2 separate regions of the Homo sapiens genome follow, and region 1 is linked to region 2. Evidence: fine-mapped expression QTL. A gene starts in region 2. The other region holds a variant in brackets. All regions are shown on one strand. Distances are between the middles of the regions.

Evidence for each region. PIP is the estimated chance that this variant, and not a neighbour inherited with it, causes the effect.
Region 1: its variant is fine-mapped to the expression of DRC4 in prefrontal cortex (BrainSeq, PIP 0.95).

The regions. Positions count from the first base shown.
Region 1 is chr16:90,040,496-90,050,345 of GRCh38, reverse strand. It overlaps DRC4 (dynein regulatory complex subunit 4), which reads right to left. Exons shown (of 11, transcript NM_001481.3): 9 at 9,837-9,850; 10 at 7,811-7,876; 11 at 5,386-7,150. The coding sequence ends at 7,001. It also overlaps the pseudogene URAHP. Among named protein-coding and RNA genes, the nearest start is that of GAS8-AS1, 16 kb to the right of the region's middle. RefSeq lists an enhancer at 3,410-3,923. The variant T/ATT (reference allele first, on the strand shown) is at 5,037.
Region 2 is chr16:90,017,928-90,027,777 of GRCh38, reverse strand. It overlaps DRC4 (dynein regulatory complex subunit 4), which reads right to left and starts at 5,098. Exons shown (of 11, transcript NM_001481.3): 1 at 5,054-5,098; 2 at 56-142. The coding sequence starts at 5,056. It overlaps DBNDD1 (dysbindin domain containing 1), which reads left to right and starts at 8,322. Exons shown (of 4, transcript NM_001042610.3): 1 at 8,322-8,467. The coding sequence starts at 8,437. RefSeq lists silencers at 7,023-7,317, 8,064-8,203.

The DNA.
Region 1 (9,850 bases), 23 kb before region 2:
ATTGCTTGAGCCCAGGATGCGGAGGTTGCAGTAAGCCGAGATCATGCCACTACACTCCAGCAAGACTCTATCTCCAAAAAAAAGGCCCTGGGGTGTGGAGCCTGCTCATCTCATTAAGGAAGTTTCTAGAGCACATGACATCCCAGTGGTGACCCTGGTTTTCAGAAAGGGGCAGATGCCAGGAGGTCAGGCATGGCTGAGGGTCTCAGTTTCCCTGGGAAAGGGGACCCTGCAGTCCCTCTTGGTCTAGGTGGGAGCAAGACGGGTGGGGGGTTACCCTGAAGAGGCCAGGAGAGGAATTCTGACAACCCCTTGGTCTGCCATTCTCCCTCCATAGGCCACTAGCTTCTCCTATGCAGGGAGAGTCTCAGGAGAGGGGGGAGGTTACGTGGCAACCCCCAAAAGGACTGATCATTGCTTTGTCACTTTATTTATAACATTTGAGACTTTCGAAAAAGTAATACAAGCCCACTAGAATTTCTCAGAGTACAAAATGTTAAAGAGTCAAAATAAATATACTCCATCTGCAACTGCTTATCTCGAGAGGTGGTCACTGGGATGACTGTTTTGTGTATCCTATTGTGAAATATTCCAATATATGGCCTCCCTGTGCCTCAGTTTCCTGCTTTGTAAGGTAGGGACAACAATACACCAGGAGGTTGTTATGAGGATTGAATTAGCTAATCCTTGCAATTCAGTGAAAGCTAGATACGAATTTACAAGCTTCCCCCCTCTTACACACTGTTTTGTCCTTTGTCACTAGTTGTTTTTCCAGGAGAATTCTCATCTTACACACAAATGGGCCTCATGCTTTTTAAAGGGCTGCAGAGTACCCTGGCGTTTATGGAATTTTCCCCACTGGGGCCAGTCTGGTTGTCTCTGGCCTCTGGCACCCATGGGCATTTGCCATAACAGTTGTGAGCCTCTCTTTAGGATTATCTCCTATAAACAGAAGCCACAACAAATGTCGTGTGTGTGGATCCCAAATAGATGTTTCCTAACTAGTCCCAAGGTAGTTGTAGCCAGAATACTCCCAACCTTTGCTGAGAGGGGTCTCCTCCCTTGCCTTTGAATGGCCTAATTCTTAATCTACAAATCACCCATGCCGAACACCCAAGAACTGGAAATGCAGCTTGACAGGAAGAAAGAAGTTCCCGGCCAGGCGCGGTGGCTCACGCTTGTAATCCCAGCACTTTGGGAGGCCGAGGCGAGCTGATCACGAGGTTAGTAGTTCGAGACCAGCCTGGCCAACACAGTGAAACCCCATCTCTACTAAAACTACAAAAATTAGCTGGGCATGGTGGCAGGCGTTTGTAATCCCAGCTACTCACCGCTAGAACCAAGGAGGCGGAGGTTGCAGTGAGCCGAGATTGTGCCACTGCACTCCAGCCTAGGCGACAGAGTGTGACTCCGTCTCAAAAAAAAAAAAAGTTCCCAGATCCCAGAGCAGGACAGCCAGTCCACCATCATGCGGGTGCAGCGTTTCCCAGATTTTAAATAGAGAATGTCCGTTATTTCATTAATACATTGTGGCAGGTGAACGACTGCCAGTGGCTTGAGGATAAAAGAATTTACCAAGACAGTTGTATGTAAGAGAAGGCAGATTTACTAGAGAAAGTAGGAAAATACGTTGCCAGAGAGAAGACGGGCAGCCAGCAGAAGAGAAACTGACTGCACAGAAACAAAGCCTTGCTGGAGAGTGTGCGTTAATAACCTTCAGGCGTCTGGTGAGACTGGGGCGCAGGAAGAATGTGTTATTTGCCGTGTGTCTGGAGGGCTGTGTGTCCTGGAGCATGAAGAAGGCAGACTAGTAGCTTGTCTGCTTTCTCTGTTTGCTTTCCCCTGCCTCCCTTTCCCTAATGAGGACTTCACATATATAACATATAGTCAAAATGTGTTCTCTGTATATTACGTAAGGTTAATACAACGATGGATACTCGCCGGCACACGCAGTTCTATGGCTTTTCTCACTTTCTGCAGGGCACGGGCCTCCACCCTGCGCTCATCCACCGCGCGTTGCGGGGAGGAAGGGCGGGGGGGAGGTCAGCTCAGAGAGCTTCACCTACGGAGCCATATCAACAATCTGAGGAGTCACCACTGCTCCCATTTTACAGATGAGAAAACCGAGGCAAGGTCACATGGCCTGTCGGGGGAAACTTACCCTGTGAGGGGCTTCCATGAGAAACCTGCGGGCCTCTGAGCCTCCCAGGGGAGAGATGGGCCCCGCGCCGTCCCCAGTCTCGCGCAGGTCTTCTTGGGACCCACCTGGCCCGCCCCCATCCCCTCCATCCCCCCATCCCCCCGTCCCGCCGTCCCCCCGCCCCCTCTCACAGCGGTCCCGCCCCCCGCTCCCTCTCACCGCGGTCCCGCCCCCTCTCACCGCGGTCCCGCCCCCTCTCACCGCGGTCCCGCCCCCTCTCACCGCGGTCCCGCCCCCTCTCACCGCGGCCCCGCCCCCTCACCGCGGCCCCGCCCCATCTCACCGCGGCCCCGCCCCCCGCCCCCTCTCACCGCGGTCCCGCCCCTTCTCACCGCGGCCCCGCCCCCGTCCCCGCCCCCACCACCCCCCAGCAGGTCCTCGCGACTCCGCTTCTGGGCCCCAGGTCTGTGCGCCCTGATTCGCCACCAGCGCACCTTCCTGGGCAAAGCCCCGCTGGGGCCCTCCTGGTGGGCACGAGGTGGTCCGGGGCGGGGTGACCGGCCCCGCCCTTCCCTTTGCCCGCGGGCGTCGCAGTCCGGCAGGGCAGGATGAGCCCCCGGGCCGTCCCGCGGCTGCTGAGGCTCCAGCGACACCTAGGCCCCCAGGAGGTTAGGGGGCCAGGCCTGGACCTGCAGGGCTCCTGTCCCCTCAGCTGCTTGCGTGGGGCTGAGCGTCGAGGGCCCAGGAACCGGGGCGCGGAGGAGAGCCCAGTTCCGGGAGAACCACCCCAGGGGCTGGAACTGAGGGCCTGGGGGGAAATGGCCATTTCGTGGGGCCGTGGGCGGGACAGTGGGTGTCCCCAGTGGGGCAGGGGAGCCACAGGGATTGGTGGGGGAGGGTCGGCAGGCACAGGCTGCGCTGTTTACGTTTGGTGCCTCATCAGCTGCCTGGGCACTTCCGGTCACCCTTGCCCCCTGTCCCCTGGGCAGCTCGGAGAACTCTGTCCAGAGGGCTGTTTAAGCCCCACAGCTGGTGTGGACGCAGGATTGGTGTGGGTAGGCGGGCACAGGGCTCCAGAGGCTCACCCTGGCCTCCTTCTCCTGGCCCAGGGCAGCAGCACGGAGCCTCCGGACAACCTACTGACCACCCACGTGCTGGACACCGCCTCAGGGCTCCCAGCCAGAGGCCTCTGCCTCCGCTTGTGCTGGCTGGAGGACCACGGCCAGCAGTGGGCGGAGCTGAGGACAAGGTAGGAGAGAGGCCCTGGGAGGGGGAGTGCCGCCCTGAGACAGATGGCGGGGACTAAGGGGCCAGGCAGTGAGGCTGGAGGGCGGAGCTCACCGCTGCCGACCCTCCTCTCAGCCCGGGTTGGGAGTGAGGTTAGGGGCTCTCTCTTCTGCTTCTCTCAGCCCGTTTCCTCCTCTGAAAATACAGGGATGAGGAGAGGAGCTCTTTCCTCCCTCCCTCCAGCCTCAGGCCCCTGTGACCCTGATGGGGTGGGAGTGAGTTTCTGCCTCTCCCTGGCAGCTGTGCCAGGGCGAGGGCGGGGGGTGGTGGTGAGGTGAGGCCTGAGGTGGCATCGAAGAGCTCACTGAGATCACGGGTAACCTTGTGCCAGGCAGTACGCTGGACATTATTTCCACTCTTTTCATTCTCCATACACCCCGTGGGCCAGCACCATAATTCACCCTTCTACACATGGGAAGACTGAGGTAGCAAGCCCAGGTGCGTGCTGGGATTCCCAGCCAGGCCTGAGGGGCAGTGTGTCCCTCAGCCTCCATGGGGTCTTGCCCACTGCCCCAGGCACAGGCTCTGCGCGGCACTTCCAGAGGCAGATGTCACCCACCCAGGCCTCATGGCCCCTGCGTAAGAGGCAGGCCCCCTCCCTTCCAGCCAGAAGGACAGGGCTGGGCCCATAGGATCAGAGAGAGTCTGACCCTGCCGCTCCTACAGTCGTGTGGTCCTTCACAAAAGCTGAGACACGAGGGGTCCAGGTCCCACCTGAGCAATTAGGACAGCACTGTGTGGGCTGGGCGTCCCGTGCAGGGTCACAGAGACTCATTACCCTCATGCACACACGCTATGTTTGTTGTTGTTGTTGTTGTTGAGACAGAGTTTCACTCTTCTTGCCCAGGCTAGAGTACAATGGCGTGGCATCAGCTCACCGCAACCTCCGCCTCCTGGGTTCAAGCGATTCTCCTGCCTCAGCCTCCCTAGTAGCTGGGATTACAGGCATGCACCACCACGCCAGCTAATTTTGTATTTGTAGTACAGACGGGGTTTCTCTACGTTGGTCAGGCTGGTCTCAAACTCCCGACCTCAGGTGATCCACCCACCTCGACCTCCCAAAGTGCTGGGATTACAGGCGTGAGCCACCACACCCAGCGTGCTATGCTCTTTTTCTTTTTTGAGATGGAGTCTCTCTGTTGCCCAGGATGGAGTGCAGTGGCACGATCTTGGCTCACTGCAGCCTCCACCTACCCAGTTCAAGCAATTCTTGGCCTCAGCCTCTCGAGTAGCTGGGATTACAAGCACCTGCCACCACCCCCGGCTAATTTTTGTATTTTTAGTAGAGACAGGGTTTCACCATCTTGGCCAGACTGATCTTGAACTCCTGACCTCGTGATCCACCCACCTTGGCCTCCCAAAGTGCTGGGATTACTGGTGTGAGCCACCTTGTTCGGGCCTGCTCTTTCTAATCACAGCAGAAGCGCACACTTTAAAGACCAGCTGGCAAGAATGATGGGAGGTTTTCCAGAAGTGACTATGGGCAAAGCCACGGTTATTCAGAACCCTGATAAGGGACCAGGGCACACAACACAGACGCTCCGTGGAGTTGGACAGGCCCACTCTGTGGGTGAAGGTTTGGTAGTTATTGACCCAGAAAGCCACACAC[T/ATT]TTTTTTTTTTTTTTTTTTTTTTTTTTGAGATGGAGTCTCGCTCTGTCGCCCAGGCTGGAGTGCAGTGGCACGATCTCGGCTCACTACAGCCTCCGCCTCCTGGGTTCATGCCATTCTCCCGCCTCAGCCTCCCGAGTTGGGACTACAGGTGCCCGTGACCACGCCCAGCTAATTTTTTTGTGGTAGAGATGGGGTTTCACCGTGTTAACCAGGATGGTCTCGATACCCTGACCTCATGATCCGCCTGTCTCAGCCTCCCAAAGTGCTGGGATTACAGGTGTGAGCCACCACGCCCAGCCAGCCATACACAATATTTTAAGTGAAAACCACAGGTTATAAAACAATACAAATAGTATAATCCACTTTATAAGTTTTTAAACAAATATACTTATGCATAGAGAAAATCTGGAAAAATATATGCCAGCTATAAAGTGGTTCTTGCTCATGGGATAAATTGTGGGAGACTTTTTCCCTTTTTGCTTCTCTGTGTTGTGATTTCCTAAAGACAGGGCAGTGGTGTCCCTAGACTGCTCTGGAACTGCAGGACCTAACAGCCTCACTGTGTCTGCTCACCCAAGTCTGACAGGTGGCAGGGCAGTGTCTGAGGCCCACTGGGATGCAGACCCAGGAAAGCTGGGGTGGGGGGCTTCTGGTCCCCATCTCTGCAGCCTCATCCTCTCCCCAGCTACACAGACCCAGATGGTCACTGTCCTGGACCAGATGAAGGCAGGCACCTACAAGCTCACCTTCGACACTGAGGGCTACTGGAGGAAGAGGGGGCAGGAAAGCTTCTACCCACATGTGGAGGTGAGAGCCCCAGTGGGCTGGAGGGGGCTGAGGCTCATGACTCACTGGGATCTGCAGGCCAGGTCCTGCTGGCCGGGCATCATTTAGGCAGTGGGCAGACTGGTCCTGGGCGGTGGCAGGTAGGTGAGCTCACTTGCTTTGAGCTCCCAAAAGAAAGGTGTCCAGGCAGCAATAGACTCTACGAGGACACACCCGTCACTCACCTGCCCAGGGTCAGGCTTTGTGGGGAGGCTGGGCCAAGGGTGATTCATCCCCTCTTTGTTGACAGAGGTTTTCATCTGAGCCAACTCCAGCTCTCTGGGCCTAACCTCACTGCCTCACCCCACACTGGAGCCGCCGCAGAAGCGCCTGACTTACTGGGCTGTGGCTTCTGTGGAGTGTCCCTCTGGTGCGGAAGGTTCACCCCATCCCAGACCCTCAGTCTGGGCTGCTGAATTCTCTCAGGTGTGTTGGGGCCAGATAGGTGGTTTGCTGCTATCCCCTTATACTCTCTCCTGGCCTCTCCATCTCAGGTTGTTTTAACCATCACCAGCAAGGCCCAGAAGTTCCACGTGCCCCTGGTCCTACATCACCTACCGAGGGAGTTAGAGCGAAGACTGGCAGCGGGAGGCTGCCTGCCCGTTCCCGCACGCTGGCTGCACCCACCCAGCCCTCAACAGAGCGGGCTTTGTGCTCATCAGGGAGCATTGGCTCACCACTTCCTAGGGAAGTCCCGGCCCCCTGGAGAATCCCACTGGGCAGCTGTGACTCAGGTGTCAATGAAGTTAGTGCCAGCACCTGCAAAGCTGTCCATTCGGTGGGACAACAGTGGCGCGAAGACAGGCAGCACAGCGCGGCACTGCCCCAACCCCCAGGTGAGTGCGGGGCACTCTGAGAAGGTGCCGCCGACTGTGGTCGGAGGTGAGACCAGGGAGTAGGCCTGGACACAGGCTGGACGTGCGGCACCCAGGGAAGGGAGCGACAGGGACACCATGGGTGAGGGTCCTGCAGGTGGTTCTCCTCCACAGAGCCAGGAAAGAGGATGGCAAGAACATGTGAAAAGCTTTCATTTGCTGATGATAAAATCTAAAAAACTTGCTGTCCTTGGTGTGATAAGGGGTGTCATCCCGAGTGTTCCTAGGCTGGTTCTCTGGGCTGTGGCCCCCCAGGGGGGCAGCTACGTCGGGGTGCCCACCAGTCCCGCGGGGCCCTGGCCCAGTGTCTGTCCGATCACAGCTGTTTCCAAGGGCTTGAAGCCCACGTTGTCCAGAGGGATCCCGAAGGCCAGCAGCTTTGCCTCATACGTGCGCAGCAGGTCGTTATGGGCCTGTGGAGACAGGGCAGTGTCAGGGAGCTGAGGGTCCCCACGCTCAGGACCACCAGAGCTGAGTGCAGCTCCATGGAGGGGCAGCGTGAGCATCACGGTGCAGAAGGATAAAGCCAAAGGCTTATCAGTCATTTCCCGTGTGGGACACAGCTCCAAGCACCTTCACTGCGTTGGCTCAGGTAGCACGACAGGGAGAGGCTGTCACTATTCCTATTCCACAAATGACGAGACGGAGGCAGAGGGCAGGGACACTCAGGGCAGAGCTGTGGTCTGGGAGGGCTCTGGGCCCTGGCTGGGTGTTTCCCACTCAGGTTCTTCACGCCCTCCCTTCCCCTGTTGAATGACGTCTGTTTCCTTCCCCGGTGGGCACAGCACCTTCTGACTCCCTGCCCAGGGGAAGGGGCTGACCAGGGAAGCGTCCAGGTCCCCCCCTACACCCATCCCAGCAGAGACATGGCCTAGACAGCAGTGCACTGCCCCAGACCACACAGAATCCAGATGCTCTCGGCTATGACTGCACCCTCACGTGGGGACAGTGACAGCTGCCTTGTCAAACGAGGTACGAAGTGGGCACAGGTGGGGTCCTCAGAGACCGTCTGCATTTAGAACAGTCTGGGCACCGAGGGGGTGCCCCTGAGGGAGGGCAGGGCACAGCCGTACCTTACAGACCTGGGCCAGCTCATACTGCAGGTCCTTGATGGTGCTGTTCTTCGACTCAAGAACATCCTGAGGAGAGAGAGGTGATGGGAGTTTGAGACTCATCTTTTGGCCGAGGCAACGGGAGCGGCCTGGGGACTCCAGTGGGCGTTCTGAGAGATCCAGCGAATAGCAGCCTGGTTTGATGGATGCATCCATCCACACAGGGTTGTCAGCAGAAAAAGGTCTCCAAGGGTGGAGAGAAAACAAGGAAGAAGCAGAGAACTGGGAGCTTGCACAACCTGCCTCTCCAGCAACAGTCCAGGCCAGGCACTGCCGCTCACACCTGTGATCCCAGCAGTGTGGGAGGCCAAGGAGGGCAGATCACTTGAGGTCAGGAGTTTGAGACCAGCCTGGCCAACGTGGCGAAACCCCGTCTCTACTATACGAAAAGTAGCCGGGCACGGTGGCTCACACCTGTGTAATCCCAGCTACTCAGGAGGCTGAGGCATGAGAATTGCTTGAACCTGGGAAACGGAGGTTGCAGTGCGCCGAGATTGAGCCACTGCACTCCAGTCTGGGTGACAGAGCAAGACACCGTCTCAAGAAAAAACTCAAAGAGCAGTCCAGACCACAAGAAATGCAGATGAGGTGAGGGCAGGCAGCGTGCAGCCACACTGTGGAGACTGGTCACTAAACACCACCTACATATTGCTTAAATTTCTTGAGGCTTGTGAATGTACTATCTCACTTTTTTTTCTGAGATGGAGTCTCGCCCCGTTGCCCAGGCTGGAGTGCAGTGGCGCGATCTAGGCTCACCGCAACCTCCGCCTCCCAGGTGCCAGGAATTCTCTGCCTCAGCCTCCCAAATAGCTGGGATTACACCCGCCACCAAGCCCAGCTAATTTTTGTATTTTTAGTAGAGACGGGGTTTCACCATCTTGGCCAGGCTGGTCTTGAACTCCCAAACTCGTGATCTGCCCACCTCAGCCTCCCAAAGTGCTGGGATTACAGGCGTGAGCCACCGCGCCCGGCTATCCCACTTTTTTGTAACAGAAAAAAGTAGTCTTCAGCAGCGCTGGCCCCGCCCAGATGTGGGCAAGGGTCTCACCACGTGGCGAGGCAGGGACTTCTTGGGCTCCTGCCTGTGGGGCACTGCTGGGCCCAGCCTGGCTTTAGAGCCGTCCCTGCTGCCCACTGACACAGCAGCCCCCTCACACCTGGCCAGCAGCAAACAGTGTCCCTGCGGGGGCCTCTGTCATTTCCCCAGAAGATTCCTCACTTAGAAGTCGAGGTAACAATGACCAGGAAAGGAGGGGTTGACCCACATTTAGCTCCATCCTCCATCCTCACCCTGGCGCGTGGGCGCAGCTGCAATGACCCTCACAGGCCACGACTGCTCTCTTCACCCTCATTTCGGTGGCTTAGCAGCAGGCTGGGTGCAGCCCTCAGCCAGGAGCTGGAAACACGCCTCCCCCACCTCCCAACAGTGGGACCCTCACTCCCTCACCTGCCTGTGCTCACTGGGCCCAGTGCTGAGCAAACAAAGATGAGTTTTCAGTCCCGGGGCCACAGTGCCTCTGGCCCAGGTGAGGCCCCTCCTATACAGCCTCACTACCTCAGGCCCTGAGAGCCAGGCCATCCCAGATGACCAGGGTCCCACAGGCACCACCGCCCACTGGGCCGGGACCCGTCGTTCCCCCATGTGCAAACACCAAGTCACCTCGGCCCCTCCCAGCCCCACCTGTGGACTCAGCCTCCTGGCGGCTCTCCAACCCTCTGCCCGTCCCCATTCTGTGCTGGCCCCAACCAGCCCCCTCCAGCCCTGTGCTCCCCATCAATAGCAGAGTGGGCCCTGATCTGGTTCCCCTGCCCAGCCCTTCCACAGTTCCCAACTGGCCCGAAACTGGCCACAGGAAACCCATGAATGCCCCTCCTCAGTGGCCGACCGAGGGGTCTCTGTGCCTATCCGAGGAGCAGCACAGAACTGAAGACTCTTGCCACAGGGATGAGGCCGCCCACTGGGGTCAGGAGCCTGTCTAGGGCCTACCTCCAGCTTGCGGG
Region 2 (9,850 bases):
GCGTGGTGCCCGCCCACGCCCACCCGGGGACTGGGCCACAGCCCGCTCTGCTCACCTGCTCCTTGCTCATGTCCTCTGGAGCGAGCCCATCGACAATCGGGGTGCCTTTGGCTTTGCCTTTCTTCCCTTTCTTTTTCGGTGCCTTTGGTGGAAATAATGGGGTAAGAGAGACTCTAACAGCTTCCCCTTCTTGGCTGGCTCTGATTTGCTCCCAGGAACATTTGGCAGAGAAGGTTCTGGAACCTCTCTCCCTTCTGCTCACCTGGAGCACATCATTGCCCTGAGTGTTCCCACCCTTTACCACACACACATCCTGTTGTTGCATTTGGAGAAGCACAAAGGAGAAACCTTCCTTTTGAGAAGGAGAACATTCCTTCTAGAAAAGAGAGGAGCCGGGCGTGGTGGCTCACGCCTGTAATCCCAGCACTTTGGGAGGCCGAGGTGGACGGATCACGAGGTCAGGAGATCAAGACCATCCCGGCTAACACAGTGAAACCCCATCTCTACTAAAAATACAAAAAAAAATTAGCCGGGCGTGCCGGTGGGCGCCTGTAGTCCCAGCTACTCGGGAGGCTGAGGCAGGAGAATGGCTTGAACCTGGGGCATGGAGTTTGCAGTGAGCCGAGATCACACCACTGCACTCCAGCCAGGACGACAGAGTGAGACTCCATCTCAAAAAAAAAAAAAAGAGAGGAAACCTAGCCAGGTGTGCTGGTGTGTGCCTATAGTCCCAGTTACTCGGGAGGCTGAGGCAGAAGAATCGCTTGAACCCGGGAGGCAGAGGCTGCAGTGAGCCAAGATCCCACCATTGCACTCCAGCCTGGGCAACAAAGTGAGACTCCATCTCAAAAAGCAAACTGTAACTTAAAAAAAAAAAAAAAGAAAAGAGAGGGAACTCATTCCAAACCCACTCATTCCTTGGTATACGGTGACCAGGCGCAGTGGCTCACACGTGTCATCCCAGCACTTTGGGAGGCCAAGGCAGGACAATCACTTGAGCCTAGAAGTTTAAGGCTGCAGTGAGCTATGGTGCACCACCGCACTCCAGCCTGGGCAGTAGAACGAGACCCCGTCTCCAAAAACTAAGAGAGGGGGGAACCCATTCCAAACCCACTCACTCCTTGGTAAAAAGTAAAGACCTCTGCTGTGGATGCAAAACAGAGGAAAGACCCTCAATACCACACTGCCAAATGTTACCATGCTGGCGGCAACATTGGTGACCACCATGGAAAAGACCTGCAAGACACCATTCAGTAAGCTTAGGGAGAAATGCCTCCATAACCACGATCGGTTGTGACAACCACAAGTTTCCTTTCTTTCAAAGAGAAACTTCCTTCAGAGAAGCCTGGTCAAGAAAGCTTGGGCAGACAGCACCCACCACGAGAGCCCTGTAAATGGGCTGCCAGACGGAACTGCACATGGCGTCGTGCGTGGTTTTAGCAACTTTGACAAGGATGGGAGAGAACCTTCTAACCCCACCCCCTTGTGGAAGTTGCTGAAACCACGCATGACACCAGGAGCAGTTCTGTCTGGCCACCCATTTACAGGGCACTCAAGCAGGTAACAAATTTCCATATCCTATCCTGCTGACTTTGCTACTCCCAGTAGTCTTCAGCCCATGCTTTTCTGTGTCTACATGTCTCGGTAACCTTTTTTAAAGACAAAGTCTTGCTCTGTCGCCCAAGCTGGAGTGCAGTGGTGTGATCACATAGCTCACTGCAGACTCCAATTCCTGGGCTCAACTGATACTCCCACCTCAGCCTCCCAAGGAGCTGGGACCACAGGAGTTCACTGCTGCTGTGCCCAGCTATGTAACGTTTTTAAAATTACAAATTTCATGTGGAAATTTTATTTATTTTTTAAAAACATTAAAACCTAAATCCATTTATCTTTTTTTTTTTTTTTTTGAGATGGAGTCTCCCTCGTCATCCAGGCTGCCTTGGCTCACTGCAACCTCCACCTCTTGGGTTCAAACAATTCTCCTGCCTCAGCCTCCACGAGGAGCTGGGACTACAGGTGCCCGCCACCACGCCTGGCTAATTTTTTTTTGTATTTTAGTAGAGACGAGGTTTCACCATGTTGGCCAGGCTGGTCTTGAACTCTCTTTTTTTTTTTTTTTTTTTTTTTTGAGACAGAGTCTTGCTCTGTTGCCCAGGCTGGAGTGCAATGGTGCGATCTCAGCTCACTGCAACCTCCGCCTCCCGGATTCAAGCCATTCTCCTGCCTCAGCCTCCTGAGTAGCTGGGATTACAGGTGCCCACCACCACGTCCGGCTAATTTTTTGTATTTTTAGTAGAGACGGGGTTTCACTATGTTGGCCAGGCTGTACTCGAACTCCTGACCCGTGATCTGCCCACCTAAGCCTCCCAAAGTGCTGGGATTACAGGCGTGAGCCACCGCGACTGGCCCATTTATCTTCATTTATGTTTCATTTAGTCCTGAATGAAAACATTAGGTGGAGCCAGGCACAGTGGCTCACACCTGTCATCCCAGCACTTTGGGAGGCTGAGGCGGGCGGATCACTTGAGGTCAGCAGTTCAAGACCAGCCTGGCCAACATGGTGAAACCCTGTCTCTACTAAAAATACAAAAAAATTAGCCAGGCGTGGTGGCGGGCACCTGTAGTCCCAGGTACTCGGGAGGCCGAGGCAGGAGAATCGCTTGAACCCAGGTGGCAGAGGTTGCAGTGAGCCAAGATCATGCCACTGCACTCCAGCCTGGGTGACAGGGTAAGACTCTACCTCAAAAAAAAAAAAAAAAAGAGAGAGAGAAAATATTATGTGGAAATTTTAGAAAACACTGATGAGAAGAAAACAGAAATATCACCCATATTCCTTGGTCCAAGGATCCAACAGACCAAGGCCCATATTCCCACAACCTAACAGAAACAGAAGTAGTTTGGTTGTGTTTAGTGTTTGCTGTTGTGTTTGCTGTTGCATTTTTTTGTTTTTTGTTTTTGTTTTTGTTTTTTTTGAGATGGAGTCTTGCTCTGTCACCCAGGCTGGAGTGCAGTGGTGCAATCCTGGCTCACTGCAACTGGAACAGGAATTAAAAGAAATTAAAAAGTGTGTAAGCAGAAACTCAGTTATATATAAGAAAACCCAACTCCCCCTGAAAAAGAGAAAGAGCTGGAGTCCTTTAAAAATTAACTGCCTGTTTTTCTGCGGCTAGTGAGCCTTGTCTCTCCTCCCTTCCCAGGCATTGTGAAGACCCTGATTCTGTAGCTGTGCGGCTGCAAGGTCACTAGGCAGATAAACTCAAGTCGCAAAACATGTTTTTCCTTAAAAAGTAAGAAATGATGTAATGCATGTTTCAACTGAACAACTGCCTTTATTTCTCACATCTGAAGCATGCTTCCCCCTGCACAGATCTCCCTCTGCCCCACGAAAAGCTTAAAAGGTAACTTAACTCTTTGTTCAGGGCTCAGTCCTTTGGATTTTAATCTGACTGGGCCGGTGCACCTAAATAATTAATAAATATCCTCCTGAACCCCATCGGTCTCTCTAATTCCTTAAAAATCCCACTACACAACCTCTACCTTCCAGGTTCAAGAAATTCTCCTGCCTCAGCCTCCCAAGTAGCTGGGACTATAGGTGCGTACCACCACACCCGGCTAATTTTGTGTGTGTGTGTGTGTGAGTGTGTGTGTGTGTGTATTTTTAGTAAAGACAGGGTTTCACCATGTTGGCCAGGCTGGTCTCCAACTCCTGGCCTCAAGTGATCCACCCACCTTGGACTCCTAAAGTGCTGGGTTTACAGGCGTCAGCCACTACACCCTGCTTTTTTTTTTTTTTTTTAAGAGACGTGTTGCCAGGCTGGAGTGCGGTGGTGCGATCTCGGCTCGCTGCAACCTCCGCCTCCCAGGTCCAAGTGATTCTCCTGCCTCAGCCTCCCGAGTAGCTGGAACTACAGGCACACGCCACCACACCCAGCTAATTTTTGTATGTTTAATAGATATGGATTTTCACCATGTTGGCCAGGATGGTCTGGATCTCCTGACCTCATGATCCGCCTGCCTCGGCCTCCCAAAGTGATGGGATTACAGGCGTGAGCCACCGCGCCCAGACTCCTGGCCTAGTTTGGTAGTTTCTTTCATAGTCGGTTTTCAGAAGACCCTTCCTGGGTCAGAAAACCCATCTACTTAAATTTAATTCGTAATGTACTGCTCTCTTTTTAATCCCTCCACTCCAAGAAGGCTACCTCATCACAAAGCCCTGAAGGCAGTGGAGGAAGGTTCAGCATTACTTAGCATTTGGGACCTTCACAGCCAGCTGCAGGGACTTGGTGGGGCTCCCAGAGCTTTCCTCCCCCCACCAGCTGAAACCCACCCTGCCACACCTGCCCAGAAATTGAGTTACTGACAATTCCTGTACCACAAAGGGAGAGCCCTTTACAAGAGAAAGACAGACATGGAGCTGATGAGGCCACGAGCTCCGCCTTCCTCTTCTCGGTCTGGGCCTGACTCCTGCCAGGCTTTCCAAGGGAACAGTGGTTCCTGTATCCCAAGGTTGTGCCCTGGGCACTCCAAGGGCACTGGACCTGTCCGGGCCTCCTTGGTGTAGAGGGATCTCTAGCCACTCTGGTGTGCCCCAGGCTCTCCATCCGGGAGACCAAAGGTCTTAGGGTAATTCCTGCCTCCGGCTCTATTCCATGGGGACCCTGGTGCTCTGCAAAGCCTCGTGAGCTGAAACCCTAGGTCCCAGGGATCCAACAGACCGAGTCTGCCATTCCAGGATGAGAGTCCCCTTGACGCATGTTCACTCTTCTGGGGACCGTGCGCCGCCGACCCCGGGCCCTGGGCGTTCTATGACCACCCCTGTGAGCACAGGGCTCTGGACAGCCCAGGTCTCAGTCCCGAGTGCTGCCAGGCCCCGGGGCCGGGAGCATCCTGAGTTTGCCCCACGGAGACCCCCACAAGAGCACCGAGCTCTCAATTCCAGAAACCCAGCGCTCCAGGCCTCCCATTCCCAGGGTCTCCGTGTACCGAGGCCTCCCTGCCCCGAGGTCTCCGGGCCCCTGCCGAGGACCCCAGCCCCGCTCCCGCCCCTGCTCACCATGACGCCAGCGGACAGGCCCAGCGGCGACTCCGGGACCAGGGCGCCCGCCCCCGGAAGCCACGCCGTTTCCCGGCAACCGCTGGGCGATGCCGCGATAAGTCACAAGATCCTCGCGAGACTCCGCCGGGCAGCGGCCCTGCCAAAGGCGGGAGTGCGTCCCTAGAGACGGGCGTCCGGAAGGAACCCGGTTGTGAACGTTGGGAAAATGTCGCCGGCAGCCCAGAAGCCTTTCGCTGCAGGGCATGTTTTGCTTATTGCTGGAACCTAAGCTCCACGAGGGGGGAACCCTTCACTTCTATCCTTCAGCGCCTAGAACAGCACACAGCACGTGCTCAGTAAAGACGTGCTGATGAAGGACCATTGAAGGAATGATCAATCAGCCACCCAAGCCTCTGAAACTTTCCCCAAATGAGATTCAAATCTGGGCAAACACTCTATCCCCTGGGCCTCACTCACCCCACCCGCCCACCTTTGAAGGGCCCTCCCAGCTGCTGCGCTGGTGGGTTTACACACACCTCAAAAACGCAGAAATCGGAAAGAAAAATACGTTCCAGTTTAGTTCCAAATGTTTGAAATCAGTAAGTATTCCTTTCACAAAAATAAACTGCTCTTCCTGAAGAGGCCTCCTCCCCACTCCTCACGGATGAAAAGAAACCAGAGGCTTCCCGACAGGCCCTGCAGAAAACAAACAGCTGCCACTTTCCTTTTCTAACTAATCTCTTGTTCTGAAAACTGCTAGCCATTTTACAATTTCTAAAATGAATCTGCCATCCGTGAAACCACCCTGTTACCTACATACAACCATCTATGTCACCCAGAAAGCTGAGTTTGTCATAAACAGGTGCTTTTTTTTTTTTTTTTTTTTGGAGACAGGGTCTCCTTCTGTCGCCTAGGCTGTGATCACAACTCACTGCAGCCTCGACCTCCTGGGCTCAAGCAATCCTCCCACCTCAGCCTCCTGAGAAGCCAGGACTACAGGTGTGAGACACCATACCCAGCTTTTTTTTTTAAGTTTTTAATAGAGACGGGGTCTTGCTTTATTGCCCAGAGTGGTCTCAAACTCCTGGCCTCAAGTGATCCTCCTGCCTCGGCCTCCCAAAGTGCTGGGAGCACGTGAGCCCCACGCCCAGCCCTAAGCTCTCATCTTTAACATCTTCTTAAAAAGTGGTCATCTACTTGGGAGGTTGAGGTGGGAGAATCGTTTGAGCCCTGGAGGTGGAGGTTGCAGTGAGCCAAGATCACACCACTTCACTCCAGCCTAGGTAACAGAATGAGACCTGAGACCCTGTCTCAAAAAAAAAAAGAAAAGGTCTTGTAGCAGATCTTGTTCTCCCATGTGTCTGGGGATGAAGAGTACAGAATCCATGCTCGTAGAAAGTTGTGCTGGGGGCAAAGTGTGAGAAATGAAAGAAGGCCTGGTGGACCTAGGTCTTCCTGTCCAGCTGGGGGAGGAAGTTGCCACATGAGCTGGGTTTGCTCAGGCCTCAGGCACCCACACAGTGGTGGGAATCTGAGAACCACTGTGATGAGAGACTTCCTGTTTGCCCACCTAAGTCCTGATTGTTCTTGGAGAGGAGCAGCCAGTTGGAAGAACTGCATTGGCTCAGCTTGCACAAAGCAGTGATTTATTTATAGTAAGCCCTGAGGCCTCTGTGAAGTCTGGCTGGTCACTGTGCCTGGGCAACCAGGAGCCAGCATCACTGTGCCAGACTCCCTTGGCCTGAGAGGGGCCTCCTCCCCCTGGGACAGGGTGGTCAGACAGTGACGCTGGAGAGCACAGTGGGGGTAATTATTATAATTTAACACTTACTTCACAAAACCAATATGCTAGCAGCTTCATGCTGATTGGCTTTTTGCTTCAGAAGTCTGGATGAGTGTCCTGAATTAAATAGCTGTATTAACAATAATTCCTTTCAGCAAAAAGGGCAAGAATAGGAGGGTTAGCTCAGGATAGCCTAGACAGGGTACTCATTTTTCACAAGCTAAGAGCAATCCTGGTCTGTCGGTGTGGGCTGCAGAGATGAATCATTCAGGGAGCCCTGAATTGCGGCTCCCTGGGATCCCGACAGGGCCCACTGCGACCTGTTCTTTTCATATTGAATTCGAGTTCAGATTTTTAGAAAAGAGCCTTTTCTTCACATATGTGGCTTAAGATACTTTCATTCAGTGTCAAGCTGTGCAGCTCAGAAACCCAGATAAATGGCATCTGAGTTTCCTGCAAAATCCCAGAGCAAATGTTAATACAAACAAACCGACTGCCCTCTGTCTGATGTCTGATGCTTCCTGCCACCCACTATCCACCAGGTAAACCGCCTCAGGCCACGGCATCAACTCAGTGAAGGCCTGGATGCTGGGTTAACAAGAGTGTTTATGAAGACTAGACTTTTTCTTTTCTTTTCTTTTCTTTTTTTTTTTTGAGACATACAATCATAGCTCACGGCAGCCTTGGACTCCTGAGCTCAAGCTGTGCTCCCACCTCAGCCTCCCAAAGGGCTGGGATTACAGGCATGAGTCAATGCTCCTGCAAACGGACTTTCTTTGAGAGATAAATATTGAAGTACTTACAAATGCAATGATCTAATGTGTATATAATTTGCTTCAAAATGACCCAGCAGTGGAGGGAAGTGAATGAGGACAGAGAAGCAGTGGCCCAGGCCAGGAGCTGGCAATCGCTGAATCTGGGCGATAGGGACATGGGGGTCAGTTTCATCGAAACTGCCTTGGCGCTCTCTGCAGCCCGGGCCCGCCGCCCTCTCCTTACCTCCCATCCCCCATCCCGCCCCTTCCAGCCTCCCAAGCACACGCCCTCGCCCCCACCCGCCCCCCGCGTTAATTCGCGCCATCCAGGGCGCTCTGTGAGTCTGTCATTACCCAGCGCGAGTCAGGCCCCTCCTGTGCCCCTCGCCAGCCCCGAGGGGCGCCCGCACACAGTCGGCGCCCCACACGCAAGTACCTGGAAGAGAACAAGAGGACGCCAGCGGGCGCGGCCGCCAAGTGAGTGCGCAGGAGCCCCGGACGCCCGGCCGGGGTCGGGAGGGCGCAGCCAGGTCCCGGTGGTGTCCGCGGCGGGGCGCGGCCCGCGAGGGAAGGGTCGGCGGGGGAGGGGTCCGCTGGGCCAGGGGCCAGCAGGGGGCGCGCGCGGGCCGGGGCGGGGCCGCACCTGTCCTGCGGCTGGGGGGGCGCCGGGAGGGGGCCGGGGCCCGGGAGCAGCTGCGCGCCCCGCCCCGCCCCGCGGGCTCCTCCCTGCCGCCGCGGCCCCCCGGTTGCTGCCCCGATGCGCTGCGCCCGGAGCCGGGGCCGAGTCGCTGCCGCAGCTGTTGGGGCGCCCGGGCCAGGCGACGCCGCCGTCGCCCGTGCCCCTCCCAGACCGCACCGGCCGCATGGAGCCCCCGGAGGGCGCCGGCACCGGAGGTGAGTTCAGCCCCAGCCCCCGAGACCCCCGCGCAGCGCTTCCCCGCAGCGAGCCGCAGCCCCTCCCCCCAGGGCTCACCCTTCGCCGCTCCCGGGAGTCGCGAAGACCCCTTTGGCAGCTCGGGGTCGTCCGGCGGGCCAGGGGCACCTCCCGGGCGCGGTCCCCGCGCGGGGCTGGGGGCACACGGACCGAGTCTCCGCCCCCTTGTTCTCTGCGCTCCCGGCCCGGGAAGCCGTGCCCGGCACGCTCCTTGGTGGGTGGCCCGGAGTTTCGTCCTGAGCCCCCTCCCAGCCAAGCCAGCCGGTGACCCGGGGAGCGGGGGAGGGGGGTTCCGGGGCTGGAGTTTGGGGTCCCTGTCGGTGGGGCGTGAGGGCGACGCTGGCCGCTTGCAAGCGCGTCCGCTTTGTTCGCCCAGCCGCGAGTCCCGGGGGGCGAGGGCCGTAGACTCGCGGGCAGGGATCCTGCCAGGGGCGAGGGGCTGAGATGGGTCTTGGGGATGTGGGGCATGCACGGGCGCGGCCTGCCGGGGACTCCAGAGCTGCAAGGGTGGCTGGTCCGGGAGTGGCCCAGGCGCACGCTCATCGGGGAGGGTAGGTGCGCGTGGAGCGCTCCCTGCCCTGATGGTGGAGGCCCTACTGCAGGACCTTGGAGTCGGTAACGGGAAGAAAGCTCTCAGAACCTCCCCCCTTCCCGATCAGAGACTTTTCCAAAAGGGCTTTCGGGGTTCCATTTGCCTAGGTAGGAACTTGGATGCAAACTGCAGACTCCTCCACCTGCCCAGCCAAGCCCACCACCTCCTGGTTTCCTAGAGCTCCCATTCCAGGGAGCCAGCAGGTGCCTGAGGGCACAGGCAGGCCAGCCTGCCGCTCTGGAACTACATGGGAACCTCTCAGTCCCCCAGCCGCACACAGTGGCATCCTCTGGAGCCCGAAGGGCTGTCCCCGGGAGGAGCAGGTCCACCCACCCTGTGTATCTGCAGTCCAAGGTATAGGGACAAATGCCCCAGGGCTGGTGGGTTTGGGTTTTGATTTGTCATTTGTGGGAGGGACCAGAGCTCTTTCTTAACACTGATAGTCCCAGGCTCCTGGGTATTCCCAGTAGCAGCTTTGTGGACATAGGAAGCCTGGAGGTTGGGAGTGAGGGCTTGGGGGTCTCCGAGCTGTTTCCAGCTGTGAACTGTGGGCAGTCAGGCCCCTGTGAGCCTCAATTTCCATTTCTGTCAGTGGAGACAGTTCTGCTTCCCCTGCAGGGCTGTGGGAGCCCAAGGCATTTGGGAGTGGAGGTTAATATGTTTTCCCTCCTCCTTTGGGAAAAAAGGAGGACTTCCCAGCAGCTTAAAAGGCAGAGAAAGCAGGTTCAGTTTCTGAGCCCATCAGTCACTG